2 linked regions of the Homo sapiens genome follow. The protein of the gene in region 1 purifies or fractionates together with the protein of each later gene. This does not show direct contact. Each region holds a gene or a part of one and is shown in the gene's direction. Other genes may lie near its edges.

The links.
Region 2: the proteins of TP53AIP1 (region 1) and UBR3 purify together in Homo sapiens (affinity purification with mass spectrometry; 2 studies listed by BioGRID and IntAct, with this or other methods). This does not show direct contact.

Annotation. Positions count from the first base shown.
Region 1 is NC_000011.10:128,939,598-128,954,841, reverse strand, and holds the start of TP53AIP1 (p53-regulated apoptosis-inducing protein 1), read left to right. Parts: upstream 1-11,970; 5' UTR 11,971-11,998; coding exon of another isoform or gene 11,999-12,048; intron 12,049-12,344; exon of another isoform or gene 12,345-15,244. UniProt on the Homo sapiens protein: May play an important role in mediating p53/TP53-dependent apoptosis.
Region 2 is NC_000002.12:169,916,341-169,931,764, forward strand, and holds part of UBR3 (E3 ubiquitin-protein ligase UBR3), read left to right. Parts: intron 1-7,588; coding exon 7,589-7,654; intron 7,655-7,743; coding exon 7,744-7,833; intron 7,834-9,278; coding exon 9,279-9,407; intron 9,408-10,351; coding exon 10,352-10,404; intron 10,405-10,497; coding exon 10,498-10,631; intron 10,632-10,979; coding exon 10,980-11,065; intron 11,066-12,386; coding exon 12,387-12,528; intron 12,529-15,424. UniProt on the Homo sapiens protein: E3 ubiquitin-protein ligase which is a component of the N-end rule pathway. Does not bind to proteins bearing specific N-terminal residues that are destabilizing according to the N-end rule, leading to their ubiquitination and subsequent degradation.

The DNA of each region.
Region 1 (15,244 bases):
TCTATTGCTCAGAGACAAACTTTTCAAACTCTTTTGGATGTTTCTTCTGGTATTTACCACCCTATGTCTAGACAATATGCTAGTTCTAGATTTTTCCGTGTTAGACGATCTGTACCGACTTCCTAATAAGGAGGAAGAGGATAACACTCTTCACTAATGCAGGCCACTGCCCTCCGCAGCCCGCCAACACACACAGGCTTCCCCATCCCCATTTTCCTATGCTAGTTAGTCCAGAACCCTTTAATCAATAGTATTTGTTGTGTGCCAGTTCCTCCATCCTCAGCCTCTGCTGTGGAAGTGTACATTTCCGCCCAATATCGGGGATCTGTTTCTTCGTGTTCTTTTTCTTAGAGGCAGGTAAGAGAGCTCTCTCCTGGAGTGCTTGCTGATGCTTCACCCTCCTGCCAAATCTAGAGTAGCTCTTCTCTGGGCCTGAGTCACAGCTGGTATAACTGTGGGGTTCCCTTTTCCTCTCTGGAGAGGAATCCCTGGTTTCCTGGATCCCATTTTCCTCTGTCTTATGCCATTCTCTCTTTATAGTGGGAAAAGGTGCAAGGGAAGTAATTTTTGTAACCTTTCATGTCTGAACATACCTTTTTACCCCGCTGGTCTTATATTCTTTGATGGTTTGGCTTAATACAGAATCCTAGTCTGAAAATCATTTTCCCGCATAATTTTGATGATACTCCTTTTTGTCTTCTGCAGCAAATCTAGCTGTGGAGAAGTCTGATGCCATTCTGTTTCTTGATCCTCACATGTGAACTATTTTCCCTTTGGAAACTCTTAAATCTCTTTTTTCCTGGTGTTTCTGTGTTTTAATGATGATGTTTCTTTGCGTGGGTCTTTTTGCACTAATAGTGCTGGGCAGTGGCCCCTTCAATCGGTCTCCAGTTTGGGGATTTACAGAATTCTTTCCTTGGTATTTTCTTCTCAGCCTTCTGAACATCAGCTTAATTGGATGCTGGAACCTCGTGGGCCACTGAACCTATATTGATCCTCAATTTCTCTTATCCTTTCTTTCCTTTTGTCCATGTCTGACATTTTGTTTTACTTTCTGGGATATTTACTCATTTATGAAACAACCCTGATGTGGAATTTGTTTACATCTTCTATATTTTTAATTTCCAAGAATTCGTTCTTGATCTTGGGATGCTCTTTTCTATATTCTTGTTTTGTTTGATGGATCCAGGCAGCACCTTCCTCTCTGAGATATGAGAGGGAATTATTACTATTATTTTGTACCCTGCATTTTTTCCCCTTAATTTCCTTTGCATCTGTTTTTGTTCCTCTTCCGTATGTCAGAAACTTTCCTCATGTCTGACAATCAGTGGCTACCAATTCAAATTTGAATTATATGCCCATGTGCATGCACACGCGCACACACACACACGCACACACATGCACACACATGCACACGCATGCACACACGCACATGCACACACATACACTCGCACCCACGCATGCACCACACACGCACATGCATGCACAGATGCACACGTACACCTGCACGCGCACCCACACACACTGTCGCACCCATGCATGCACCACACACGCACATGCATGCACAGATGCACACACACCTCACACACAAGCACGCACACATGCTCATGCACACACAAGCACACACACACACGCACACACACACACAGCTGACTGGAAGGTGTGTTGAGCAGGCAAGCCTGGTTAGCTAGTGAAGCGCCGTGGTAGGGAGAATAATGGCCCCCAAAGATGTCTATGTTCTAATGCTCAGAACCTATGAATAGGTTATGTGGCAGAGAGAGGAATCAAGGCTGCAAATCAGTTCATTTTAAAATAGGAAGATTATTCATGGGCCCAATGTAATCACAAGGGTTCCTAAAAGTGGAAGAGGGAGGCAGAAAAAGACAGAGAAGGAGATGTGAACTGGGATCCAGGTCAAAGTGTTGAAGGACTCCACTTGCTGTTGCTGGCTTTGAAGATGTGGAAAGACTGCCATGAGCCCAGGAATGTGGGCTGCCTCTAGAAAGTGGGAAAGGCAAGAAAATAAATTCTCCCCTAGACAGTACAGAAAGGAACACAGCCAGCAGACAACCTGATTTTAGCCCAGTGAGACTCATGTTATACTTACGAAGTTTAGAATCGCAAAACAATAAACATGTGTTTTTAAAACCACTAGGTTTGTTACAGCAGCTATGAAAAACTAATACATTTGCAGGTTAGGGACCCACAAGTATTACAGCTAAGGAGGGAGGGAGGGTCAAAGCAGCCAGGAAAAGGTGCTTGAGACCTCAGCTAGGGAGAAGAGCAAGAACTCCCTGGACTTCAGCAGATTTCATGGCTAGGTCCACCGTGTCTGCTGTGTCTGTCTGCAGAGTTCCACTGCCTTCTCAACAGCCCAAAGGGCATTCCCTTGGAGAAGAATTTGGGGGTTCAGATTCTAATCCTGAACGTACTTCTTTCTCCAGTAATTTTTTCAGGGTTTACCTCAGGCCTCAGGCTCTGCAGAAAAATAACAAGAAACCTTTAGAATCCACATGCATTCTGTCTCTTGGTCTGTTTCTATGAGTTTGGGTGGAGATTGATCCACCTGATTGAGGCCTCAGCAGAACATCATCCGATTTCCCTGTGCTTCTTAAGGGTTTGGATTAGGGAACAGAGTTTGCCGGCTTTTTCATCTTGAATCACTTATGGGTGGATATAAATGACTATATGTATTTCTAACATTTTGTCTTTTTAAAATTAATTTTTAAATTAAAAAACCAAATAACTAGAAGCAATTTGCATAGTTGTTAAACTATAAAGCATAAGTAACTGAATACTACGAAGTTATGACTCAATTTAAAACAAGCACATTAGCTAAAACAATTGAAGTTCTTTGTGTGTTTTTCCAACAGCTCATCTTTCTAACCCCTCCCACAACCCAGTATTTATCCTTTTTTTTCCAGTTTCACTCTTTTTTATAAAAACTTTTGTATTGTAGAATATAATATGTTGAGAAAGTGCCAAGTAAGGCTTATTCCAAAGTGAGTACGCATGTGGCCATCATCCAGATCAACAGAAACATTCTCGCACCCAGAAAACCCTTTGCATTGCCCTTTCCATTTCCTTCGCTAATTTAATTTAACATACTCTCTTCTGTATTTTACATTGTTTTATCTTTCCATGTTTTCTTCTGGGTATTTTTCATCAGTCTATAAGTTCAGTGAGTTGCCTGTTACTCATTTTTTCAGTGCTTGTCTTGTCTCTTAATTTCAAGGAGTGCTTTGCCTAAGAATATGTAAGGAAAGATAGGCATCTTTTGTTCATTTCATGTGTTGTGTAAGTATCTTCTCCCAGTCTGTGGCTGATCTTTTCACTCTCTTAGTGATGTCTTTCAAGGAATAAAGTCTTAACTTTAAAATATTTAGATTTATCCAATTTTTCCTTTATAGCTGGTCTATCTTTGAACTTCCACTTCGGATCATTTCCTTCTGCATGGATAACATCTTTTAGAATGTCCTTTAGTATGGGTCTGCTATTAATGAATTCTTTTAGTTTCTGTTTATTTGAAAATGTTTCTATTTTATTTTTATTTTATTTTATTTTATTTTATTTCTTGGAGACAGGGTCTCACTCTGTGGCCCAGGCTGGAGTGCAGTGGCACAATCTCGGCTCACTGCAACTTCCTCCACCTGGGTTCAAGCGATTCTCCTGCCTCAACCTAGCTAGTACTACAGATGTGCACCACCATGTCCGGCCAACCTTTGTATGTTTAGTAGAGATGGGGTTTCACCATGTTGGTGAGGCTGGTCTTGAATTCCTGACCTCAGGTGATCTGCCTCCCTCGGCTTCCCAAAGTGCTGGGATTACAGGTGCGAACCACTGTGCCTGGCCAAAAGTGTTTCTATTTTGAATTCATTCTTGAAGGTCATTTTCATCAGGTACAGGCTGGCTCTTATTTTCTTTCTATTGTCTTCTAACTTCTGTTGTTTCTGTTGAGAAGTCAGATTTAAGTCTAATTGTTACTCTTTGGAAGGTAATTGTTTTTTGTTTGTTTTTTTACTCCCTCAAGCTGCATTTAAGATTTTCTCTTTGTCTCTGTTTTTTGTTATTTAGCATTTTTACTATAATGTGTATAGATATGGAGGTGATACATATATGTATGAATTTAAATATATATATATTTTAAATGTTTTTGGCTTAGAGTTGTAGAACTTCTTAAATACGTGGCTTAATATTTTTCAGCATTTTTGTAAAGTTCTCAGCCATTCTCTTTAGATTTTGTCTCTGCTTCATTTTCATTCTCCTTTCCTGGAATTCCAAGTATAGGTATGTTGGATTCTCTTACTATATCCTCTCTATCTCTTACTCTTGTTAAAAGGAAGAACTTTTGATATATTTCACAGAGTTTAACTGAGCAAAGAATGATTTGCTTAGTTGTGAATTGGGCAGCCCTCAGAACGTGAGGAGGTTCAGGGAGCTCACTCTGCAATGTCAGCAGGGAATCTTTATAGACAGAAAATCCCAAGTGAGTTACAGTAACAGTTTGATTGCTGATGGCTTGGCACTTGCTTTATTTGAACGCGGCCTGATCACTTGGCTGCCTGTGACTGGCTGAAGGTTGGCTGCTGTTATTGGCTGACACCCAGCTGTTTGTTATGAAATACTCCTAAGTTAGTTGCAAGTTTGTTTACATACTAAGTTAGGTTGCAATTTTTTTATGTAGGGACTTAAGAAAGGAGTCAGCCTCAGCCCAAATTTAATTTAATTTAACATTCTGTCTCCTGTATTTTGTCTCTCCATGCTTCATTCTGGGTGTTTTTCATCACTCTATAAGTTCTATAACTATTTTTAGATTTATTGATTTATTGATTCATTTTAGACGGAGTCTTGCTTTGTTGCCAGGCGGGAGTGCAATGGCACAATCTCTGCTCACTGTAACCTCCGCCTCCTGGGTTCAAGCGATTCTCCTGCCTCAGCCTCCTGAGTAGCTGGGCGTGTGCCACCACGCCCAGCTAACTTTTGTATCTTTAGTAGAGACGGGGTTTCACCGTGTTGGCCAGGATGGTCTCGATCTCTTGACCTCGTGATCCACCCACCTCAGCTTCCCAAAGTGCTGGGATTACAGGCGTGAGCCACTGCACCCGGCCACATCCATTGAGTTTTAAAAGTATAATCAGTTTTTCAGTTCTGAAATATTCTTTTTTTACATATATAGTTCCAGTTCTCTGCCAAAATTCTCAATACTGTCTTTTGTCATCTTAAACATGTATACGTGGATGTTTATTTTTATTTTTGTTTTTTTGAGACAGAGTTTTGTTCTTGTTGCCCACACTGGAGTGCAATGGCATGGTCTCGGCTCTCTGTAACCTCTGCCTCTCAGGTTCAAGCGATTCTCCTGTCTCAGCTTCCCGAGTAGCTGGGATTACAGGTGCCTGCCACCACGGCCAGCTACTTTTTTTGCATTTTTAGTAGAGATGGGGTTTCTCCATGTTGGCCAGGCTGGTCTGGAACTCCTGAACTCAGATGATCCGCCTGCCTTGGCCTCCCAAAGTGCTGAGATTACAGGCGTGAGCCACCGCACCCAGCCACATAGATGTTTTAAAGTCCATGTCCAATAGCTCCTATTTTTTGAGTCCTTGTAAGCCTGTTTGTATTGCCTGTTTTCTCTTAGCTCATTTCCTTTTCTTATTGTGTGCCTGTTATTCCTCATTGTGTGCTGAACATTATTTTTGAAACATTGTTTATTAAAGCAATTTGAGGGCTAGGGTAATATCACCTTCCTCCAGAGAGGATTTCAGCTTGCTTCTGCCATGCATCTCAGGATGCATAACACTGGGAGTTACGCATAGGATGACTCCAAGCTATCCTTGGAAATACCCTCTTCCAATTTCAGAGGTACAGGATAACTCTTGGAGTTACCCTCCTCCAATTTCAGAGATTGAGATAGCTTAAGGCTGAACTGCAGTTGCCTTGAAAGGAGTCTTCTTCTGTTCAGTTTGCTCCTAGGGTGCAGCTTTTCCATGATCTCAACCCAAAAGGAAGAGGGTTCATCAGGCCACCAGCCACACACAGGCTCACCCTACACCAGGGGCCTCTGCACTCCAAGGCAGGTGCACTCAGCCCCGCAGGCAACCACCCGCCTTTCATCCAGCTCCTCTAGAATCCACACAGGCCTCGGGTGGAAAAGTGGTCCTGGCTGCTGGCTCTTCTCCCTGGGCCTCTGGTCTCACTCCTAGATCTTTCCCTACTAATTCATCATTATCTTGTTACCACACTAATGAGCTAATAATGCCTTCAAGAGCAATTTTTAGAAGACCTTATCTACCTCTTTAATTTCTTCTCAGATGGAAGGTTGTTCTAAATTGCTGAATTCTGCACGATCAGGAGCAGAAGTTCTCTTGGGACTTTCAGCAAAAGGGCTCTGACCACTAGCATTTATTCTTTAACACTTAATACCAGGTCGTTGTCCAGGAGGCAGGCGTTGCAGCTGAGAATACCCTTGATGGGGGTGGGGGTATTCAGTGTGCTGCGAAGAGATTCTGAAGAAACTTTGGGTCATGGTCAAACTTCAGTTACAGCCCTTTGGTTCAGAGATCGGCTCAGGAAAAAAAACTTGTTGTTTTCTTTATACATTTTTAAAAGGCTCTTAATACTATGGATTCTATAGGGTTCTTTCAACTGGAATTGTGTCTATGTGGATACATTTCTCTTCAAGTTATAAAAATGTAGTTAAATATCTTCTAAAAGAGAAATAAATGCCCCAAAACATATTTTAGATTTAGATTTCCCAACTTGGAAAATAGCTAAAAATATTTTTGTGAACTGAAAGCTGCTCTCCTGAGCTCCCCTGCATAACGTGACTCAGCCATGAAAATGCATCACTGGGCTTTCTCTGGCTTTCTGTGCCAGGGCTCCAAATATTGGGAGTGTGCACTTCTTAACCTCAGAGAATGTATAATCTAGCTAAAAGCAGACACGTGAAACCATCTAAGGTGATAAATATGCATAAGATGGTGTAGTGAAATGTACATATTTTATAGCATCCAAGTCTTCTAATAGCAAGAAAGAACACTTATGAATTATTCTGCTTCACTGATTGCTTATTTATCATAAATGCTACAGTCAGTGCATTATTGGAGTTGTTGACTACCTTTGGCTTCCTCTGAGAAATTTTAATGTACATGTACAATCCAAAGAGTTGTATTTATTAATAACCACTAGGACCTATAAATGTGGTATAAAATAACAGGCAAGAGAGTAGGCCCAGGAGCCAGACTGGCTGGGTGTGAATCCAGGGCTGGCTACTTACTAGTGTGGTGAGCTTGGTTAAGTCATTTGACCTCACTAGCCCTCTGTTTGCTGTTCTGTAAAGTAAGGATAAAAACACCTATCCCGTGACATGTTTTGCAGAACAGCTGGGTTCGTGTACATTATGCATTGAGAATAAGGTCTGGCACATGGCGGAGCACTCCATATAAATTCTTATTCTTCTTAGGCAGGCATCCCCAACCCCTGGGCCACAGACCGGTATGGGTCTGTGGGCTGTTAGGAACTGGGCTGCAGGAAGTGAGTGGTGGGTGAGCCAGTGAAGCTTCATCTGTATTTACAGCCACTCCCCGTCGCTCACCTTACTGCCTGAGCACCACCTCCTGTCAGATCAGGGGCGGCATTCGATTCTCATAAGAGCGCGCATGAATTCTATCGTGAACTCCACATGCGAGGGATCTAGGCTGCATGCTTTTTATGAGAATCTAATGCCTGATGATCTGTCACTGTCTCCCATCACCCCCAGATGGAACTGTCTAGTTGCAGAAAAACAAGCTCAGGGCTCCCACTGATTCTACATTAGTGAGTTGTGTAATTATTTCATGATATATTAGAATGTAACAATAATAGAAATAAAGTACACAATAAATGTAATGCACTTGAGTCATCCTGAAACCATCCCCCTCCTCAGTCCATGGAAAAATTGTCTTCCATGAAACCGGTCCCTGCTGCCAAAAAGGTTGAGGACCGCTGTTCTTAAGGTGCAATTATGGTTAAACATTTACCAGGGGGAATTGAAGCATAAACAGAAGTATACTTTGTGAATTATTACCAACAACATCCACATAAAGTGGGAAAGAGGAAAATCCATTTTATTCCCAGCCAAGAGACATTTAAAGCACATACCCTCCCTGCCCCTACTCAAATGGGAGGTGTAGAAAGCACCCTCCTCTTTGTCCTTCCAGAATATCTTTTTGATGTGTCTTATACTCACATCTGAAAAGGTCAGCTGGTGACATTTCTTTCTGGAGGCAATTTTACTGAAAGCATTTTCACTTTCTCAGTGTGCAGGGACTGGAGGCTCAATGAAGAGGATACAGCTATGTCCACATCATGTCAACTCTCACTGATTGTAGAGCTGTTCTCCCACCCAACTCAGTCCTCTCTCCCTCTACCCCTAACAGGAACATTTAACTCTGGTTATTGACTACATCTCATTGTGATTACTGAGCAAATTTATTAAATAGCCTGGGATAATACTTTTTTTTTAGATGGATTATTGCTCTGTCGCCCAGGCTGGAGTGCAGTGGTACAATCTCGGCTCACTGCAACCTTCACCTCCTGGGTTCAAGTGATTCTCCGGACTCAGCCTTCTGAGTAACTGGGAATAAAGGTGTGCACCACCATGCCTGGCTATTTTTTTTTTTGTATTTTTAGTAGACACACAGTTTCGCCAGGTTGGCCAGGCTGATCTTGAACTCCTGACCTCAAGTGATCCACCTACCTTGGCCTCCCAAAGTGCTGGGATTACAGGTGTGAGCCACCGTGCCCGGCCCTGGGACAATACTTGAATGGGGCTCCAGGGACTGATTACTATCCATCAAAACATTCTGTCCTATTGAAATATAAATTTATCTGAAGCAGACACATGAAAACATGCTTTCCCATATAAGCCCCCATGCACTGGGCAACTTCCCTTCTGCCTAGCCCTTTAATGTTGGTGTTCTTGAAGCTTTGGCCTCAGTGCCTTTTCTTTGCTCTCACATTCTTCCTGAGAAATTGCATCTACTTTAAAGATTTCCTTTCCCACCTATTTGGATCTTTTGCTTGGAACTTTCTCCTAAGCTCCAGGTCCATGGATCCTACTTCCTGCTGGACTGCTCCCATCTGGAGATCCCACAGGCCCCTCAACTCAGCCCCTGTTTCTGAATCCCCTAATTATCCTCTATTTACTTGGTCACTCAAGCCAGAGACTTGCCCTGGCCTCCTTGTCTCGCTGTACCCCGCCTGATGATTGAGCTCAGCTCATCAAGGTCTGTCACCTGCAGCACTACAGCAATCGCTTGTCTGGCCTCCAGTTTTTAAAATCCGTCCCACAAAACATGACCAAAGTGGCCAATCTGATGACACCATCCCTTGGCTTAGATTCTTCAGTTAACATCCTGATCAGTGACGTAGGCACAAGAATCTCCTAGAATGGAAGTTCCTGGGCCCCACCCACAAAGATTCTGATCCAGCAGACCCGGAATGCGGTTCAAGAACCAACACATTTAACACTCAGACTGCTCTGGGGCAGGTGGGCTGTGGGCATGTTCTAAGACGCACAGCACTGCAGGATGTTCCAGCGCCTCGATGTGGCCCGGACACTCACCGTCTTCTGGCATGCAAACACCTCTCTAACCTCATCCATGTCTAACCCCTTCATGTCCTAAAGTCCAGCAGGCAGGGTCAAGGACTAGGGTGACATTAGGCCAGGCCTGGGAATGCCTGGATCTTGGCCTGCTGTTCACTCATTGTTGCTTTGAGGGTCTAATTGGAGGAGCTCTGTCCCCAAGCTCTAATAGGCAAAAGTAAGAAAAGTAACCCATTGTTAGTAGCTCAGACTAAGCCCAATACCCTTGAATTCATGGTTCTCTTATAAAAACTGAAATGCTGAATATGGCTTAGCAGAGGATAATTGGCAGGAAGCAAGACTTTCCCGCTGTGTCAAGAGATGGGAATAGGCCAAGTCTACAAAGCTGACCTGAATCCATTTGTCCAATTGGTGAGCCTGTCTGGCCTATCCCCAGGGGCCAGACCCTGCCCTCGCCCCAAGCAGTAGATGCAAGAGCAGAGAAGGATGGTCAAGTCTATCTAAGGAGACAGGCTGTATAGAAGTGTTCTGATTGCATGGGAGCAAATTTTAAGAGAAGTACCATGCATGGATAACAATGTTCAAGCCACAGTAACCGCACACTGGTAAACTGTGGTTAAACTTGGTGCAAAAGTAATTGTGGTTTTTGTCATTATTTTCAAATGGGTCTTAAAAAGGAGTGTTGGGGGCCAGGTGCGGTAGCTCATGCCTGTAATCCCAGCTCTTTGGGATGCTGAGGTGGGCAGATCACTTGAGGTCAGGAGTTCGAGACCAGCCTGGCCAACATGGTAAAACCCCATCTCTACTAAAAAATACAAAAGTTAGCTGGGTGTAGTGGTGGGTGCCTATAATCCCAGCTACTCCGGAGGCTGAGGCAGGAGAATTGTTTGAACCCAGGAGGTGGAGGTTGCAGTGTGCTGGAGGTTGCGGTGTGCTGAGATGGCACCACTGCACTCCAGCCGGGGTGACAGAGTGAGACTCTGTCTCAAAAAAAAAAAAAAAAAAAAGATTGCTAGGGGAAGGCTGGAAGCCCAGGGAGGAAGCAGGTGTTCCCTGCCCAGCAGTGATTGCTCCCTGGTTGCTGGAGGAACGATGGAATCAGAGTCACCCGAGGACCAAAGCTCCACACCTCTTGCTATCCCAGACTCTCTGGAACACCAGGAAGAAAACATATTTGGACAAAAATTATTCTTTGCAACATTAGAACTTTTGATTCTGGAATGAGACAAGGAAATATGTATGTATCTCAGAGAGACAATGAATTTTTAAAAGGAAATTGGGACCGTTTCTCAGGGTGAGATGTCTTATCCGGTTAACTGCGAGCCCCCAGGGATTTCTACTCAGAGTGTTCATCACATCAGGTTTCCATTCTCTACAATAAAAACATGGCTAGGGAGAAATTACCCAGCACTGGCAAGAAAGAGCTCCAAAATAGAAGCAGCTTTTGAGGAATTTGGAGGGATAAAACGGAATAGTATGTCTGAAAGTTGGCAACATGTAAAAAGGCTAAAAATGACAATTCTGCCTGTGATACTATGTCTAGTGTGCAACGCTTCATTCAAAAGGCAGGCACGTCTCCCCTCCAGGCGGGAGTGGGAATCTCAGTGGGGAACCGGGAACTGCGTTTGAGCTGATGCAGACTCAGGGTCAACTCGACAAGGGAGCCCGGCACCCAGACACAGCGGCGTTCACCTCACCTTGCACCGTCTTTGTCGGTCTTACAGGCATCAGCTTTCCCAGCCTCATTTGAGCCGGGATCTGAGTTGCATTTCTTTCTGGGTCAGGCCTTGCCATTAGGGAGAGATGAAGTCAACTGATGAGCGTGCCAGCCTTGAGGAAGGACAGAGTGCGGGAAGCAGAGTGTGGGAAGTTGGAAAAAATAATCTGCAAGGTAAACACCTTCAAGTCAATTTCAAGAGGCTGGCTAGAAACCGCCAGGACTTCAGGGGGCCCTGTCTCGCGGGTCTCCCTGCGCCCTCAGCACTTTGGCTTGGTATAAGGCCACCTTGTCCCTGAAGAGAGGCCTATTTTAAGCTGAGCAAGAAAAGGTGAGAAAGACTAAAATCAGCTTTGTGCAGAGACGCCAATTTCTGCTGCACACATGGAAACGATGTGCACATACAGCGAGCTGGCCCAGCTCCCGGCCACGTGGCTCACACTGTCCGTGCTCACCCACCCGTTGCCTTCACCCCCAGCAGCACTGGTTGTGAAAAGGGTAACTGCCTGAGCCACCCCACCACTGCGGGCCTGCCAAGGACAGGCAGGAACTCAGCCATGCCCCGCAAGGAGCCCAGGGGCATCTCCAGGGACGGCTCCCCAGCCTATGGGCTCGCTCCCTGAGAGGCCGTGCTCGGGCTCGCCTGCTCAGCTCACTCCGAAAGCCTCTGCTCAGACCTGCACCCAGTCACAGCAGCACAGATGTGCAGGAGGAGACCATTTCCACGGACCCTCCGACTCCTAGGAGGCAGGTGAGGAGAGGGGGAGGGAGGGGACCAGCGCTGGTGCTTCAGGTATGCTCTGGCCACTGCGATTCACTCTGCTTTGTGCTTGGGGTTTCACACGCATCTCGGCGACTGTGTGCGGAAAGTACAGTCGTGACCATGCGCAGGTGAGGCCTGGAGGAGGTCAGCTAAACTGCTCTCTCTCAATGGTTCTGAACCCTGAGAGTACATCAGAGTCACCTGGAGGACTTACGAAAACACACACTGCAGAATTTCTGACTTGGTCGATGCAGGTTGGGGCCAAAAATGTGTATCTCTAACAGGTTCCTGGGCGATGCTGACGCCGATGCTGTGCGTCCTGAGCCACACTTGGGGAGCTACTGCGCAAGCTCGCACAGCTAGCCGACCGCTGAGCTGGGGCTCAGACCTGGGTCAGTCCTGGTCCACAGGCCAGCCCCTTTCTCACGTCCCCTGGTGAACGGCGGCATGGTGGCCTCATGGACACTGAGCAGGGCCCCTAGGGAAGCCTGTATGGAGGCCACTTCACTTTGAATGGATCTGGGATAGAGGAAGGACGCGAGCTGTGGGAGCCTGGGTCCTGGGCACAGCGGGCATGTCATGGCAGGGTTCACCAGCCTCCTTTCAGCAGTTCCCTAGTTCTGCCCCAGCTACCTGTGGTTGGTGGTGGGAGGTTTATTTGTTAGTTCCTTCAGCAGTGACTCACCACACTTACTGAGAGCTTACCGTGTGCCAGGACTGCCACAGGTATGGGGATGCAGAGTGTCCACAGCCCCCCAGAAGATTGATGATAGCACCCTCCATGTAGGAAGGGCTGTGACTGCAGACAGGGCATGGGGCGGGGCACCTGTGTTTGCCACAACCTCTAGAGGGTCCCTTCATATTCACGTCTGTGCGTGGGGCCCTCCTCCACCCAGATCTGCTTCCGCAGCACAGCCACACAAGTCTACAGCTGGTGACTGTGGCTGGCAAGCAGGGGAAGGTGGGTGGGGGCGGCAGCCGTGGGCTTTCCACTGGGTCCCAGCAGACCAAGTCCTGGTACAAGGAAGCACGGGCTGGCACTGGCAAACCCTCCTCAGGGAGCAGCAGGCCAGGAACCTGGGCTGGGACTAATTATTGCTGAAGAGAGAACAGGGCCAAGTGTCCCTCATGTCCCCCCAGCAGCCGGGGCAAGCAGAGAAAGAAATGTCGGAACCGGGGAGAGGCCCCTGCCTCTGCACAGGGCTAAACATCATGCCAGCTGGCAAGGGAGAAATGGGTACAGGGCCCAGGGGCATTATCACAGAAGAAGGCAATGAAAGGTGCGTTGGGGGCTGAGGCAACCCATTATAACTGCACACATCACACACCAGGGATCCACTAATTTAGACTACAATGTGAATGGTCTTTTGAAACTGAGATGTGTGGGGGCCCAGAGGGAGGGATCCACCCAGCTGGGAGGAGGTTAGGGAGGTCTTCCTTAAAATACTTCCTGTTCCGTCTCAGAGAACCCATGGACACTGGCCAGGGGAGGGAGAGGAAACACGTCGCAGGTGGAGAGAATCGCTTGTGTGAGGGCACAGAGCGGGGCAAGAAGACAGTGGTGGGCTTTCCCCAGGAGCTGTTCGGCAGAGGGAAAGTGGATGCTGAGCTCTTCCTCTTCCCTGGAGCAAGTCCCATTTCCTCAGAGAACACGGCCCCCTTGGGCCAAAAGGACATGAAGAAGCTCTTGCTAATGCCAGCCTGGCTCTCCTCATCCCGCCCCCTGCACCCCTGCCCTTCTGGCTGCCCTCCCTTCTCCTAGCTCTGTCCCCTCTCACTTCAGGAGTCTCAAGTCCTTCAGACTACTCCAAAGTCGGGGGATCTCTGGATGGGTAGGAGGTGATCTCACCGCCTCCTCTCTTGCCCGGGCTTGTCGAGATGAACTTCCTGATGCTGGCGGCGCTGAAGCTGACACTAGCGGGGGCACCTCCCTGACATGAACGCCCCTCGAGACTGGGCCAGTGCTCCTGATGCCTGGGCACCTGCGGAAAGGCACCCAGCGTGGCCGCCGTGGCATGCCTTGAGTGTGTGGGTGGGGACTGTTGCAAACTGACATTCCAGCTGTCCCAGTCCATTTTGTGCTGCTCTCACACAACCCCGGAGAGTGGGCGATTCACAAAGGACAGAAATGTATCTTCCCACAGCTCTGGAGCCAGGTGCCAGCAGGTTCTGTGCCTGGTGATGGCTCCAGTCTCTGCTTTCATGATGGTGCCTTGCTGCTGCGTCCTCCAGAAGGGACAAAGGCTGCCGTCCTCACATGGCTGAAGGTGGAAGGGCAACGAGTGAATGTACTCCCTCCACACAGCACCTACATCAGGACACCTGATTCCATTCATGGCCTAATCCCCTCTTAAGGCCCCACCTCTTAATGCTAGCACATTGGCAACACCTGGATTTTGCGGGGGAAACACGTTCAAACCATAACACCATCTAAGGCTGCTTCTGCCTGAGACAAGTGTGCTCATGTCTGCCTCAGAGACGGGGCCAAAAGCAGCTTGCTCTGCCCTGCCCTGGAAGCAGGACAGAGGATAGCTGTCATCTCTCCCTTCCAATGCCAGCTCATTGTCTCAAACAAAACTTGGCCCCTTGTGCCCTCTAAGGAGTGGGTTCCTGTGCAGGGGCTCCAAGGTTCTTTGTGATAATAGACCAGGGAGGGCAAGTTGGTTCCCTCTCATGCTTGGCATCCAGGTGTTTGAGGGTAGCTGCCCAGGGCCCTGTGTTGAGGGCACTATGGTCAGAGCTGGAGCAAGGGGGGGCTGGGTGCATGATGAGTTTGCATGGCAGCTGGAAGTGTCCCCTCTGAGTGGCTCCCTGGATATCCCGGGACCACTGGCCGTGTGCAACCTGAGTCCCGGCATGAACTCCGCTGGGACCCTCCTTCGTGTTAACGCTTCACTTTTCAAACAGGAAATAGAAGGAAAACAAAGCTGCTTTCTAACAAACACTTTGATTTTAAAGCCAGAGTATGAGTCAGAAACATCATCCATTGCAGCCAGCTTTACATGGGAATAGCCCAGTTCTTCAAAAGAAGCAGCTGTCATTTCATGGCACCGAGGCATCGTGTTTCCAGAAGAGCCACAGTCCCTCTTGCATTAAGATGGGTTGTGACGGACCTCTTAGAGAATCCGACAGTTTCGGGTTGGAAAGGGGATCCCTTTTGTTCTGTCTGGACAGTAAGGCAGTG
Region 2 (15,424 bases), on another chromosome or scaffold:
CAATCTCATATATAAATATGAGAAGCAACTCTCATCTCAGTTGCCTCTCTTTCCCCTGCATGGATGCCCTCTTTTCTCTGCTTTGACTCTGAGTCCTCATCCTATTCCCCCTTTTCCCACACGTGGACACCCTCCTCATCCTGCCTGGGCTCTGACCCCCACTTTGGACTGCCCTTCTGTGGAGAAGCCCTGTTCACCCTCTTCGTGCTTGAAACTCCCGCACCAGACTCCTCCTCTTTTTGGATGCCCTCCTCATTCTGCCTTGGCTCTGATGCCTCCTGCTCTTTGCACATGTGGATAATCTCCTTACCCAGCTTGGATTTTGATTCCCTATTCCAGGCTGGCCCCCTGTATTGTTGCCCTCCTTACCTCAGTCAGGCTTTGATTCCCCATGCCAGGTCAGTCCCCATTTGGAGGCCCTCCTCACCCAGATTGGCTCTGATGCTCTACACTGGTCTGCCCTGCTGTGTGGGTCCCCTCTGACTCTGTCCACATCTGATGCCCTATGCTAGGCCACACCCCCTATGCCTGAGCAACCCCCAACATCTCAACCCCTCAATTACCCCAGCAGTTGCCCTCCTCAGTCTGAGCTCTGACTTCCCTCTCAGTTTCCTAACCTTTAGATGCTTATTTTTACCCTGCTCCCTCTCTTTACCTCCCAGTGGCTTTAGGAATGGTTTAGGAAGGGAAGAACCCTTTGTTATCTTTAATTCTAATCCCTCCTGCCCTGAATTAATTTTTCTTTACCCCTCATTACCCCTCCCCCAACATTTGTGTCAGCTCTTAGCCTTCAACCTAGATTTTGTACATTTGGATTTTGATTCTGCCCTGACCAACTCACCTTGATTCTTTGCCTTGTCTAATTGTTGGTCTTTAGGCTTAAATTTTGTTTATGCAAATGGTAATGAGTCAGTCTTCAGAGAGAACATTGTCCAGCCTTCACGGAGCACCATCCCACTTCCAACCTGCTTCCCTCCTTCTTCACCCTGTCCAGGGTCAGTCCCTCAGCTGGAGCTTTAACTGAAGCTTTTCTCAATCCAGTTTTCTTTGGTATTTGAAACTTCAGGAATTATTGTTGAAATAGTAGCATCAGTAAGACAACAGTAAGATTGAACTGGGAGAAAATTATACACAAGAAAATGATATTTAAATTAATCATGCTTGGAATCATGAGTGTAGTGAAGGACAGTTAGAATCATGTATGACATACAGAGCAGCTGAACTCTAGGAAATAGTGTATCTGTTTTTCACACAGAAATATTTTTAGGAAGATATTGAATGTTATCAAAAATTTAAATGGATTCTTAAAAGAAGAGAAATTAAGTATAGAACTTAAAGAATCAAATAATATGTTATTTATTTATTTATTATTTTTTTCGAGATGGAGTTTTTGCTCTTGTTGCCCAGGCTGGGGTGCAATGACACAATCTTGGCTCACTGCAACCTCCACCTCCTGGGTTCAAGCGATTCTCCTGCCTCAGTCTCCTGAGTAACTGGGACTACAGGCGTGTGCCACCACACCCAGCTAATTTTTGTATTTTTAGTAGAGATGGGGTTTCACCATGTCAGCCAGGCTGGTCTCGAACTTTTGACCTCAGGTGATCCACCCACCTCGGCCTCCCAAAGTTCTGGGATGACAGGCACGAGCCACTGTGCTGGGTCCATGTCATGTTTTTATATGGTGCTTAAAGGTTTTATTATTCCTCCTTTTTTTGTCATTGGGAAGTGGAGATGCAGAGATATTAAATGACTTGCCTATTGTTATGTAGCAAGTTATGGTACTTCTGGGTCCACAGTCCTCATTTTGGAACTCCTTGTCTGGTAATGTTTTAACTGTATTGGTTGTTGGCAGTGGAAAGAGCTTTAACGTAGGCAGATCTGAGTGTAAATTGTGGCTCTGCCATAATTCAACTAGCTATGTGGCCTTGGACAGATTTTTTTAAGTTTAATTGTTAATATATTTTTACTTTTTTTTTTTTTTTAACACTGCTGAGCCTATTTCCTCATCTATTGAAGGTGATAATATTAACCAGTGAGGATTGACTAAGAGGCACATATTACATGTGTGATAAACATTAGTTCTTCTTCCATCCTTGTGGGTGGATGTCAGAAGTTATTATGGTAATCTAGTACAAATCAAGCAAATAATTTTTTTTTTTTTTTTTAAGACAGGGTCTCGCCATCTTGCCCAGGCTGGTCTTGAACACTTGGGCTCAGGTGATTCTCCTGCCTGGGCCTCCCAAAGTGTTGAGATTACAGGTGTGAGCCATTGTGCCTGGCCAATAATATGTTTTGAACTGAAGTAAGCCAGATCAAACAATCATATAGAAACAGGAGATGGAATACATTTTCCTATAAGATAGGCCATTTAAGAGTTCTTAAAAACATGAATATCATGTAGGGCAACAATTGTGAGTTTGTAGCAGGGTGGGTTTGGCTAGAGTCCTCTGGTAAGAGGAAAGTAGAACGTGCATTCATCCAGCAAATATTTATTGAATGTTTACTATGTTGTAAACATAGGGGATACAGTGATAAAACAGTCCCTGACTTAAGGAAGTGGAAAACAAGTATATGGTTAATTTGATTCCTGTGCTTCTGTAAAGTTGTGACCAGGTGCTATGTGGGACCATAAAAGGGAGCACCTGATTTAGCCTGAAGAACCCAAGAAAAGCTTCTTAGTAGAAGTGTCAACTGAGCAAAGTCTTAAAGATACAGTAATCCAGTGGGAGAAGGGATATATAGCATTTGCGGCAGGGGGAATAGTGTATACAAAGGCACAGAAGCTTAGTAAGTTAGGGATACTACCTATGGTGCATGAATTTATGTGACAGAAGATGAGGCTGGAGAGGTAAGCTCTTTCTTCTTAGGAATTGGAAGGTTATCAGGAGGCTAAAACCATAGGGAGTCATTAAAAGATTGTGAGTGGAAGAAGTTCAAGGTTAAATTAATGTTTAAGTAAGACTACCTTCTGGCAGCATATAGAGGGTAATAGGAGATATGTTAGTCAAGGTTCTTTTAATGCAAGGGGAAAAAATAATTTAAAGCAGCCTGAGTTAAAGAAGCAGTAATTTCATGTCTAAAACACCAAAAGCAATGGCAACAAAAGCCAAAATTGACAAATGGGATCTAATTAAACTAAAGAGCTTCTGGACAGCAGAAGAAACTACGATCAGAGTGAACAGGCAACCTACAGAATGGGAGAAAATTTTTGCAGTCTACTCATCTGACAAAGGTTCATCCAGAATCTACAATGAACTTAAACAAACTTACAAGAAAAAAGCAAACAACCCCATCAAAAAGTGGGCAAAGGATATGAACAGACACTTCTCAAAAGAAGACATTTATGCAGCCAAAAGACACATGAAAAAATGCTCATCATCACTGGCCATCAGAGAAATGCAAATCAAAACCACAATTAGATACCATCTCACACCAGTTAGAATGGCAGTCATTAAAAAGTCAGGAAACAACAGGTGCTGGAGAGGATGTGGAGAAATAGGAACACTTTTACACTGTTGGTGGGACTGTAAACTAGTTCAACCATTGTGGAAGTCAGTGTGGCGATTCCTCAGGGATCTAGAACTAGAAATACCATTTGACCCAGCCATCCCATGACTGGGTATATACCCAAAGGGTTATAAATCATGCCTCTATAAAGACACATGCACACGTATGTTTATAGCGGCACTATTCACAATAGCAAAGACTTGGAACCAACCCAAATGTCCAACAATGATAGAGTGGATTAAGAAAACGTGGCAGATATACGCCATGGAATATGTGTATATTCCAGCCATAAAAAATGATGAGTTCATGTCCTTTGTAGGGACATGGATGAAGCTAGAAACCATCATTCTCAGCAAACTATTGCAAGGACAAAAAACCAAACACCGCATGTTCTCACTCATAGGTGGGAATTGAACAATGAGAACACACGGACACAGGAAGGGGAACGTCACACACCAGGGCCTGTTGTGGGGTGGAGGGAGGGGAGAGGGACAGCATTAGGAGATATACCTAATGTTAAATGAAGAGTTAATGGGTGCAGCACACCAACATGGCACATGTATACATATGTAACAAACCTGCACATTGTGCACATGTACCCTAAAACTTAAAGTATAATAATAAAGTAAAAGCAGTAATTTATTATGAATACATAGGGATGTCTCAGGGTTAGGGCACCTGGACCTCAGGGATGGACTGGAAATCTGAATAGGAACTCCTGTCGCCTGCCTTTGCTTTGCCCTGAGTGTATGTGCCTCATTTTTTCTTCCCTTCCTGTGCTTTGCCTATGTGGTGAAATACTGCCTTTTTATAGTTGCCTAACGTTACCATTTCAGGCATACTCCCAGATTGTCTGTGAATGTCTCTGAATCCTAGTTCAAATTTTTTAAGAGAGAAAGTCATTGCTCAAGCGGGGGTAGATGTCCCCTGCCCTGCCTCCAGTCAAGTATGGCTACTATAAACTTGACTGTCAGGCCCCAATCTCTGTGTGTGGTTGAGGTGGCAGAGAGTGGGAGAGGGAGACACATTCTGAGAAGATGGGAAGGTTGTGAGCTAGGCAGACACCACAAAAGGTGTTTTATGCAGGATAATGGTAGAAGTAGGGGTTATCACTAAAATCTAGGCACTAGGTGTTGAGGGCCTGAGCTAAGGTTAGTTAGGTGCAGTGTAGACAGAAAGAAGAAAGTGGATTTAAGAGATACTTAAAAAATAAGTAAACATAATTTGATACCTCATCAAATATAGGAGGCTTGTGAGAAGGAGGAAGTCTACATTTCATATTTAAATTACTGGGAATCTGGAGAAGAAATATTGAGGAGGATTGAGTTTTATGGCAAAGATACTGAGTTTGGTTTGGACACGCTGTATTTGTGGTCCTATGGAATATTAAGTATTGCTGTTCAGTAGACACCTGAATGTAAGATTTGGAGTTCAGGAGTGAGATTTCCACTGAGATTTGGAACTCATCTGGGTAGAGTTAGCAGCTGAAGCTGTGAATCTGGATAAATTCACATAGAAGACTATAGAGTGAAGAATGGAATCCAAGGACTCTCAGTATATATAGGAATAGAAGAAGTGCTTATCAAGTAGCCAGTCTGTGACATTAGACAAGGAAGGAATATGGACTTTAACGTTATGGAGAATGTGAACATAGGATATGCTAAAGCCCTGAAAGATAAAATAGGGTCCATGGCTTACTAGTTAATAGCAATATGTACTGGGTACTGTGCTGTTTTACTTATTTCTCGCAGCTACTAAACTCTTTATTATTCCTACTTTAAGGATCAGACAACTTAGGCACAGAGAGGTAACTTGCCCATAGTTTTACAGCTGGGTGGTAGAACCAGGATTCTGCACTTAGGAAGCAGGCACAGTGGTTCACGCCTTTGGTCCCAGCACTTTGGGAGGCCGAGGCAGGTGGATCACTTGAGGTCAGGTGTTTGAGACCAGCCTGGGCAACATGGTGAAACCCTGTCTCTACTAAAAATACAAAAATTAGCCGGTGTGGTAATACATGCCTGTAGTCCCAGCTACTCAGGAGGCTGAGGCAGGAGAATTGCTTGAACCCGGGAGGCAGAGGTTGCAGTGAGCTGAGATCGCGCCACCGTACTCCAGTCTGGGGGACAGTGCGAGACTCAAAAAAAGGGTCTGCACCTAGGCTGGGCCTGGTGGTTCACGTCTATAATTCCAATCCTTTGGGAGGCTGAGGCGGGCAGATTGCATGAGCCCAGGAGTTCGAGAGCAGTCTGGGCAACATGGCAAAAACCCTGTCTCTACCAAAAACAGAAATTAGCCAGGCATGGTGGTGTGTGTCTGTAGTCCCAGCTGCTCAGGGGGCCGAGGAGGGAGGATGACTTGAGCCCGGGAGGTGGAGGTTGCAGCGAACTGTGATCGTGCCACCATACTCCACCCTGGGCCACAGAGTGAGACCCTGTCTATTTAAAAAAAAAAAAAAAAAAAGAGTCTGCACTTATCCACTGTGCTTAGTGCCTCAAAGGAAATTGAGGGAGATTCTGACTTAGCTAGTTAGTGTAGAATATGTTACTAAGGCGATTATGGTAATGGAGGGCAAACTTTTTAAAATTTTATTTTTAATTGTGGTAAAATACACAGAAAACATAAAATTCACTATCTTAATCATTTTTAAGTGTATAGTTCAGTAGTGTTATGTGTATTTGTATTGTCGTGCAGCCAATCTCCATAACTTTTTTATCTCATAAAATTGAAACTATACTCATTAAATAGCTACTCCCCATTTCCTCTTCCCCCAGCTTCTGGCAACCACCATTCTACTTTGTATCTCTACGAATTTGGCTGCTCTAAGAACCTCATATAGGTGGAATCATATAGTTACTGTCTTTTTGTGACTGGCTTATTTTACTTAGCATAATATCCCGAAGGTTTATTCATGTTACAGAACATTGTTAGACTTTCCTTTCTTTTTATGGAGGGCAAACTTTTATTTATTAGAACAAATTTTTATAGCCTTTACATATTGAAGAGGATATTATTATCTTACTGGTTTTGAAAAAAATAATTATTTCAGGGATGGTGACATATTTAGACTCCTTATAACCTCTATAATGTAAATTATATACATTAGCATAATTATCTGAATGTCCGGGATAAACATTTTTAACAAGAGAATATTTAATAAGAACTTAAAAAGCATTAAAAACAAACAATACCTTTTCAGTTCTTAACTCATTTGTTTAAGAAGGACAGCTGTGGTGTATTTTTGCCCTGTAGTGATTTTGTGATCCATGGGATTCACAGATTTAAAATACAGTTTTTGTAATATTTACAGGAATGCCTAAGGTCATTCACATATTTTTTATGAAGTTTTGTTATGGAGGCTGGTGCGTTTGGTACTGTTTGGAAGCATCTTATCTAACTGGTGAAGGAATCTAACGATGCCCTGCATTTATACCTCTGTTTAGGGATGTGGTCAGAGTCTTCTTACAGTTTTGAATATGACAGTGGAGTCCAGATTAGCTCCCCAGTTCACTACTTTTGAACTTTAGGAAGTTAGTTAAGTTTTCTAAGTTTGAATTTTGCTACTTGTAGAATGAGAATATTAGTAGCTCCTACCCCATAGCATTCTTCTGAGGATTAAATGTGGTAATGTGAATAAAGTGCTTAGCATGGTGACTGGCACATAGGAAGTGTTCAATGAATGTTATATGTGACTGTTATTACTGTCATGATGTTTGGTATACATGCGTTTGAAGAGTCCCAAATGGTCTACTGTAGCTGGAAATCCATTCCATCCCTTGTTTTAATAATAATTATTTGCTTTAGCTGAATTGAATTTAGGAAATATTAATCTGTACTGGATGCTTCAGAGGATTCAAAGTTGAGTAGAATACAATTTCTGCCTTCAAGAAACTTATACTTAAGTGTTTAAAATGGAAAAATTTTATCTATAGTGATTTTGGAATCTGCATCTTCTAAAATGTTAAGTTTTGAACTAAAAGTATAGGAATAAATCCAGGTGAGAGTATGGTTTAAACATTTTACAACCATCTTAAAATTTCTATAAAATAGTCTTTGACTTGTGCATTTTGTTTGTTTATTCCAGCCAGCACCTAACCAAGTCACTTTTCATCTGCCACTACATCGTTACTATGCTATGTTTTTGAGTAAGGTAAGACTGTCATTAAACAATTCTGTTCTTTTTTTTTTAATTTTCAGAAATAAGAATTGAATTAGTAACTTTTTTATTGTAATTTTTAGGCTGTGAAATGTCAAGAACTAGATTTGGATTCTGTTTTACCAGATCAGGAAATGTTAATGAAACTAATGATTCACCCACTCCAAATTCAAGTATGTATTCAGGCATTTAAAAAGTTTTGAAGTGGATTCCTTGTTTAAGTGATTCTTCCTTTATTTATATGCCTTTCATTGTTATTATAGCTGAGATGTTTGAAAACTTTTTTTAAAAAGTTGTTATTGTATTTTTGCTAGATTATGTTTAGGTATTTTTCATTTTATGAGATTTACTTTTTAGTTTTACTTTTTCCAGGAATTCTTTTCATGATATTTGCTTATGGGGTGGTATTTAACATACTATATAGCACTGTTTTGGGAGTCAGGAGATCCAAAAGATTCTAGCCTTGGTGCTACCACTGTTTTATTTTCCGCAAGGTTTAAGGTAATTCACCTCCTTGATTCTCAGTTTCCCTATCTGTATAGTGAGAGGAGAAAGAGGAGAGAAGAATTAGCTTATATAAGCACTGTGATTTCTTTTAATACCAGCAATGTAATTTGACAGGCCAGCTTTTTATATACATTAGAGGGACTTGCACTTCCATTTGTTTTTCCTGGCAATTTTAGATTTGTTAATTATTATAATATTGAACTTGAACTCTGGGTGTTAGGAAACATAAAATTATGACTGCTTGAAGCCAGGTGTGGTGGCTCACGCCTGTAATTCCAGCACTTTGGGAGGCCAAGGCGGGCAGATCACGAGGTCAAGAAATCGAGACCATCCTGGCCAACATGGTGAAACCTTGTCTCTACTGAATATACAAAAATTAGCTGGGCATGGTGGCGTGCACCTGTAGTCCCAGCTACTCGGGAGGCTGAGGCAAGAAGAATTGCTTGAACCTGGGAGACAGAGGTTGCAGTGGGCCAAGATCGCGCCACTGCACTCCAGTCTGGCGACAGAGTGAGATTCTGTTTCAAAAAAAACAAAAAAAATGATGACTGCCTAGTTTTAGTTGACACTGGACATAAATACATGAAGAATTAAATACTGATGTAGTGAGAACATTTATTCTAACCTCCAATATTTGGAAAATTAGCAGTATAGATTTAAGATTGAGTTAGGGTGAATTAAAGATGTAGAATGTATTCATTGACTTTGAACAGTTGGTTTTATTTTATGCTTATTCTAGTGTCTTTCTTTAAACATGTATATTAGGATTGTTGTTGTTGTTACTTAGGGTTTTCTTGAGGGAGAAATAGAGTGAAACATAAGCATTGATTTCTTATGAAAGATGTCAGTGAAAATCATCATAAATGTATCCAGAGGCCAACATGGAAAACCAACTCATTTGTTTAAACTCTAAAAAAGTGGCTATGTAAAAACATAATTATTGTTAAAAAAAATGTAAAAATGTATATTTCAACTGATTATCTTTAACATTGGACAGAATATCGGGCTTATACTATGATCACATCATTAAATATTTTGAAATGGTTATTTATAATATTTTGTAAAGATTGCATTTAGATAATTTATTCTTTGTCCAATTTACTTTTATTAGGCAAGTCTTGCAGAAATCCACAGCAATATGTGGGTAAGAAATGGTCTGCAAATCAAAGGACAAGCCATGACGTATGTCCAGTCTCATTTCTGTAATTCCATGATTGATCCTGACATTTACCTGTTACAGGTAAGCCAGCTAGATAATGCAGATATACTTTAGAAGTGTCTCATTTGTACCCAAGGGATTTTAATTTATAGAGGTGACTGCGTGATGACATGGAGAGGCCAATGCCATTGAAAGAATAATTTTTTACTTACATTTCCCAGGAGAAGAGGCATACCACCCAACACAAGGCTACAAGGAAAGCACCAGATTTTGGTCAAGAGGCAGAAAGGAGTGAGGGGAGAGCCTAGGCCAGAGCCTTTATTGGGGTTTCTGCAGGAAAGGCAAGGAAAGGCAAGGCAGGATTGGCTAATTTGAATAATTCCAGCAGGCTTTGAGGCATAGGGGCTGTATCTGGCTCTGCGGTACCTGGCCCTGGGTTGATTTAGGGGAGGGGAAATACTGGGTTGATGTGTGAGAGTTAGATAAAGACAGTGGTTGGCTTGCATGACAGGCATTTTCCCAAGTAAGTTGTTTAGTATGTTCAGGAATTAACTGGCTCTGGGAGGGACTATCTGTCTTCAGGTCTGTAATGCCCCTCAAGATGTCAAAACATCATAATATACAGAAAATAAAAATCATAGCCAGGCGTGGTGGCTCATGCCTGTTATCCCAGCACTCTGGGAGGCCAAGGCAGGCAGATCACTTGAGGCCAGGAGTTTGAGACCAGCCTGGCCAACACGTCGAAACCCTGTCTCTACTAAAAATACAAAAATTAGGCAGGTGTGGTGGCACACACCTGTAAATCCCAGCTACTCGGGAGACTGGGGGATGAGAATTGCTTGAGCCTGGGAGGCAGAGGTGGAGGTTGCAGTGAGCTGAGGTTGCACCAGCTTGGGTGAGAGTGAGACTCTGTCTCAAAAACAAAAAACAAAAAACAAAAAACAAAAAAAAGTATAGAAAAACATGATTAATAGAAGAAGGAAAACTGAATATTGAGAAATAAAGCATTTTGTTTTCTTTTAAAGGTTTGTGCTTCTAGACTTGACCCAGATTATTTTATTTCATCCGTCTTTGAAAGGTAGGCATAATTTTATTAAGACAGGTATTAGGAAGTGTCCAGTTAATTTTGTTTTAATTTATAAAAATATGTTTCAAATATTTCTTCTTGTAGATTTAAGGTAGTGGATTTGTTGACAATGGCATCACAACATCAAAATACAGTACTTGATGCAGAGCATGAGAGGTCGATGTTAGAAGGCGCTCTTACATTTCTTGTGATTCTTTTGAGTCTTCGTTTACATTTAGGTAAAACTCACTGATACTAATACTTATGCATTAACTGTTTTCCTCCCTTTCTCCCCCTCCCTGTGGTAGTAACTGGCTTAGGGAAAAAAGGAAAGGATGTAGATAAATGTAAACAATGTTTCAAACTCTTGATATGTTGTACTGTAGGTATACCTTTTAGAATATCCTTTGCTTAAGGGAACTGCAAACAGCAGTTAAACTGCAGTTATGTTTGGAGCATAGCTTCTTTACTCTTTAATTTGAAGCATCTTATATTTGGTAAAACAGCTTAGTAAAAAGTGTGGTAAGTTTTTTTCTTTATAATTTATGTATACTCAGATTTGTTAATTCCGTTTTTAATAATTTTAGGAATGTCTGATGATGAGATTCTCAGGGCCGAGATGGTAGCCCAGCTGTGTATGAATGACAGGACACACAGTTCATTGCTGGACCTCATATCCTTTTAAAATTTTACTTTCTGTTAGTTGCAGGATCTAAAATAAGTATTTTTTATGATTAATAGTTTATCAATTTTTTGATTAATTTTTTTTCAAAGTTGAAAAATAATATAGAAAAAGAAGAACACCAGTTGTGTGCTCAAGTATGTATTCAAGCCTGGTGACTGTTTTTTTTTTTTTTTAACCTCCTGTTATTACCTCTTGGGGAACTCTTCTTAGACTTTAGGGTAGATTTCAGGACTGAATGATGGCTTTGGCCACCCCAGCATTTAACCTCCTAGTGGACAGCATTACTGAACGTTTTATAAAAGGCAGCTAGGTCCATTTTGTCTGTGTAGCCAGGATGCAATTCATGGTTAACAGTTAAAGGTATACCTTACGATTATTATTACCAGGATTTTAAACATTTTGAGGGTTTTTCTGTAGAATTTGGTCTTAAAGGATTTTTGAATTTATAGATTTTTGTGTACAAACAGGGAACCTGTGGTTCTTTGTATAGGACTGAACATACAATGAGAATCTGATTATCTTTTTAAGTTAATGTTAATAAAATTTTACACAAAGATTATCAAGTAATTTTGTGATAAAAATTCTGGCCGAATTTAGTATTTGTATATCTTATGACTATGTTTGGAAGAATTGGCTAAACTTTTTATTTTGTGAAATAAGTCCTATTAGAATGCCTGTTTGACAACCTTGATTTTTGTAAGCAGCCTCAATTTGATACTGTCTGATGATTTCCTTCAGTCATTATGAACTATGTGTCAGTGCTATTATAGAGTAAAAACGATCTCTGTGTCTTTCAATTTTAAAGATTTATGTGCTTTAATGTGAGGAGAGAATCTTTTTGGTTTGCCTCTTTGCTTATATTTGCTTAGTATTTTTTTCTTTGGGGATGAAATTTTGTGTTTTTGGAAAAACAATCTTTGCTCATAAAAATCTTGGCTAATTTTTCACAAGTTCTTTCTGTTTTTTAAGGAAAAGTTATTTACAAAATGGTAAAAATGAAGACACATTTTTAAAAGTTTTTCTATCGTTTTCTGAAATTTGATAAATTTATTTCGGGGAAAATATACCTGGGAACTACTGCAGCATACAATTTATTAGTAGGCTCCTAGATTAAACATATTTTCAAAAATCACAATTAAAAACAGTTATTATTGATCTGTTGTATTATATAGCCCTCTTGTGGCCAGCTTTGTATATTACAACCAATTACTATTTGTCTACTTCAGCAAAATGAGAAACTAGAGTACCTTGGAAAGGCTATAAATCTGGCTTTTTGTTACTAATATTTTTTTCTTGACATATATATCATATTCCAGAAAATCCTAATCCCAAAAGTGGCATTATTCCAGGCAGTTACAGCTTTGAATCAGTTTTATCAGCTGTAGCTGATTTTAAGGCTCCTGTTTTTGAACCTGGAGGTTCTATGCAACAAGGCATGTATACTCCCAAAGGTATGTTTATATACATAAATGGACTCTTTCAAATATCAGTTCTTGAATGGTGAATTCTTCTGTGTATTAAAAGAAAATGTTTACCTTTTATTCGTTCAAGCTTTGGTTTTCTTTTCTCCATTTTGTTATAAATGTATGTCTTTATTGGTAAACAGTGATACTGCTTTCAATTACTTAGAAATCTATAGCTTTATGTTACACTAAGACTTCTTAGATGACTCTAAACTATAAAGGAAATTTATATTTGAACTCTAATTCATTTTTATAAGTGATCATAACCATAAATGAACCAGAAACTATAAAACAAAATGTATATTAAAAAATATTTTGAATGTATTTACTCTCCAAATTTGATTTTGAAACAGCAAAAGAATCCTCACGACCCAAATTTTAACTTGAAATAGTTCAAATTAAAGTCTGTATAGGCCGGGTGTGGTGGCTTATGCCTGTAATCCCAGCACTTTGGGAGGCCGAGGTGGCTGGATCACCTGAGGTCAGGAGTTCGAGACCATCCTGGCCAACATGATGAAACCCGTCTCTATTAAAAATGCAAAAAAATTAGTCAGGCATGGTGGCAGGTGCCTGTAATCCCAGCTACTCGGGAGGCTGAGGCAGGAGAATCACTTGAACCCAGGAGGTGGAGGTTATAGTGAGACCCTATCGTGGCCACTGCACTCCAGCCTAGGCAACAAGAGTGAAACTCCATCTCAAAAAAAAAAAGTCCACATAGAATGCTGATAGCACTTACTTACATTTTGAACCTATGTTAAATGCACAGAACGTTTTCCTTAAGTGGATGATTGGTTTTGGAAGGTTTCTCCCGCATAGATTCATAGTTGACATCCTTGACAGCAGCCAGAAGTAAGTGAGGTTTTGATTTACACAGTCTTTTTTTGTTTGACTTTCATATTTTCACTTCTCTAAGTGAAAATTTTGAAGGAAGTAGCAGTTACGTGCTTCTTGACTCCCTCAACACGTTGTCTAAATGAAAAACCAATGCCCATTTTGAAGTTGTAAATAATATACACTGTACTGTGTGTGTTTGGCAAAGCAGAACAGAAAAGCCTTATTTGGGATTTTTCAGGGAGTTCACAAGGAGCAAGAAAATCCAGTCTCTGGTTGGAAAGTATTCCATTAAAAGAAAAGCACAGTATTTTTTTAGTGTAGAGGATATTTTGTGTGTAAAATTAGATGAATTTGGGAGTGGAGTGGTGCTGTGGTGTAGTGCAGTGCTTATAAAAGTGTGATGTGACGATTACATCTCTGTCAGACTCACTTGCGCTCCTCATTAAGAATGCAGGCCCCTGTGTCTCACCTCCTATCTGCTATCATCAGAATCTCTGTGGGTGAAATCTGGGAATCTGCTTTTTAAAACAAGCTGTTTAGATGACTGTTCTGAACAATGCTGAGATGGAATACTGGGCATTCGGAGATTAGAGCAAGGAAATTGAGTGTCATATTTAAATACCATATGAATTATATTTGCTAGTTGTGTGGTTTAGGAAATTAGTTGTTTTTTTTTTTGTTATTTTTTTGGAGACAGAGCCTCACTTTGTCGCTCAGGCTGGAGTGCAGTGGCGCCATCATAGCTCACTGCACCCTTGACCTACTGGGCTCAAGTGGTCCTGCCACCTCAGCTTCCCCAGTAGCTGGGACCATAGACACCCACCACCATGCTGGCTAATTTTCATGTGTTTTGTAGAGACAGGGCCTTGCTGTGTTGCCCAGGCTGGTCTCGACTGTTGGGCTTAAGCAATCCTCCTGCCTCAGCCTCCTAAAGTGCTGGGATTGCAGGTGTGAACCGCCATGCCTAGCCAGTTTTTTTATCTTTGGATTTGGCTTCTTATCTGTAAAATAAGTTTTTAAACTTTTAAAAGTGGTTGAAACAAGCCTCTGGTTTCGGGGACTAAGCCTTAAGTGAATTTGTCATATTAATATAAAACCAACAAAAGCTGGCTTACTCCTGTTAAAGTGGGTGTGGGTAGTGAACCTAGCTTCTTCTCTGTCCTGCTATCTACTTGCTCCTAAAGTGGCCCCTGTTATACATCTGTGGTAATTCAGCTCCATGGAACACTGTTTGAAGCCCACTGGACTAATTAATCACTGAAGTTTTCTTCCATTGCTAAGGTTGTGCAATTCTGATAAAAGCTTTGGCATGTTAATTATGCAAAATAATAGACTTTAAAGAGAAGGACGATCAAGGCCGGGCGCAGTGGCTCACGCCTGTAATCCCAGCACTTTGGGAGGCCAAGGTGGGTGGATCACGAGGTCAGGAGATTGAGACCATCCTGGCTAACATGGTGAAACCCTGTCTCTACTAAAAATACAAAAAATTAGCCGGGCTTGGTGGCGGGCACCTGTAGTCCCAGCAACTCAGGAGGCTGAGGCAGGAGAATGGCGTGAACCTGGGAGGCGGAGCTTGCAGTGAGCCGAGATCGCGCCACTGTACTCCAGCCTGGGTGACAGAGCGAGAATCTGTCTTAAAAAAAAAAAAAAAAAAAAAAAGGACGATAAATGATTCTAGAAATACTAATAAAGATCTTTGTGAAGGACTGTCTTCAGAATTTTAAGTCATACTTCTGATACTTTAAGATGAATAGCTTGTTACATGAAACTAGGGACAGTGGTTAACAATGGTTAACAGTGTCTTGTGCTAGAAGGTTGTAATTATAGTGGATGGTTAGGGAGAAGCTTAAGCTTCTTACCATGTTTTCAAATGTTAAGAATTTTGCTAGAGAGAATGAGAGAAAAAAATCTATTAAGGAGATACTCTTAAGGCGGTGGTTTCTAAAATTATTATCTCAGTTTATCCTTTAGATTTTTGCCACATCTAAATAGCCTCTCTACTGAAATATACTTAGTATTTCACTATTTTTTAAAATGAGTTAACTTAAAA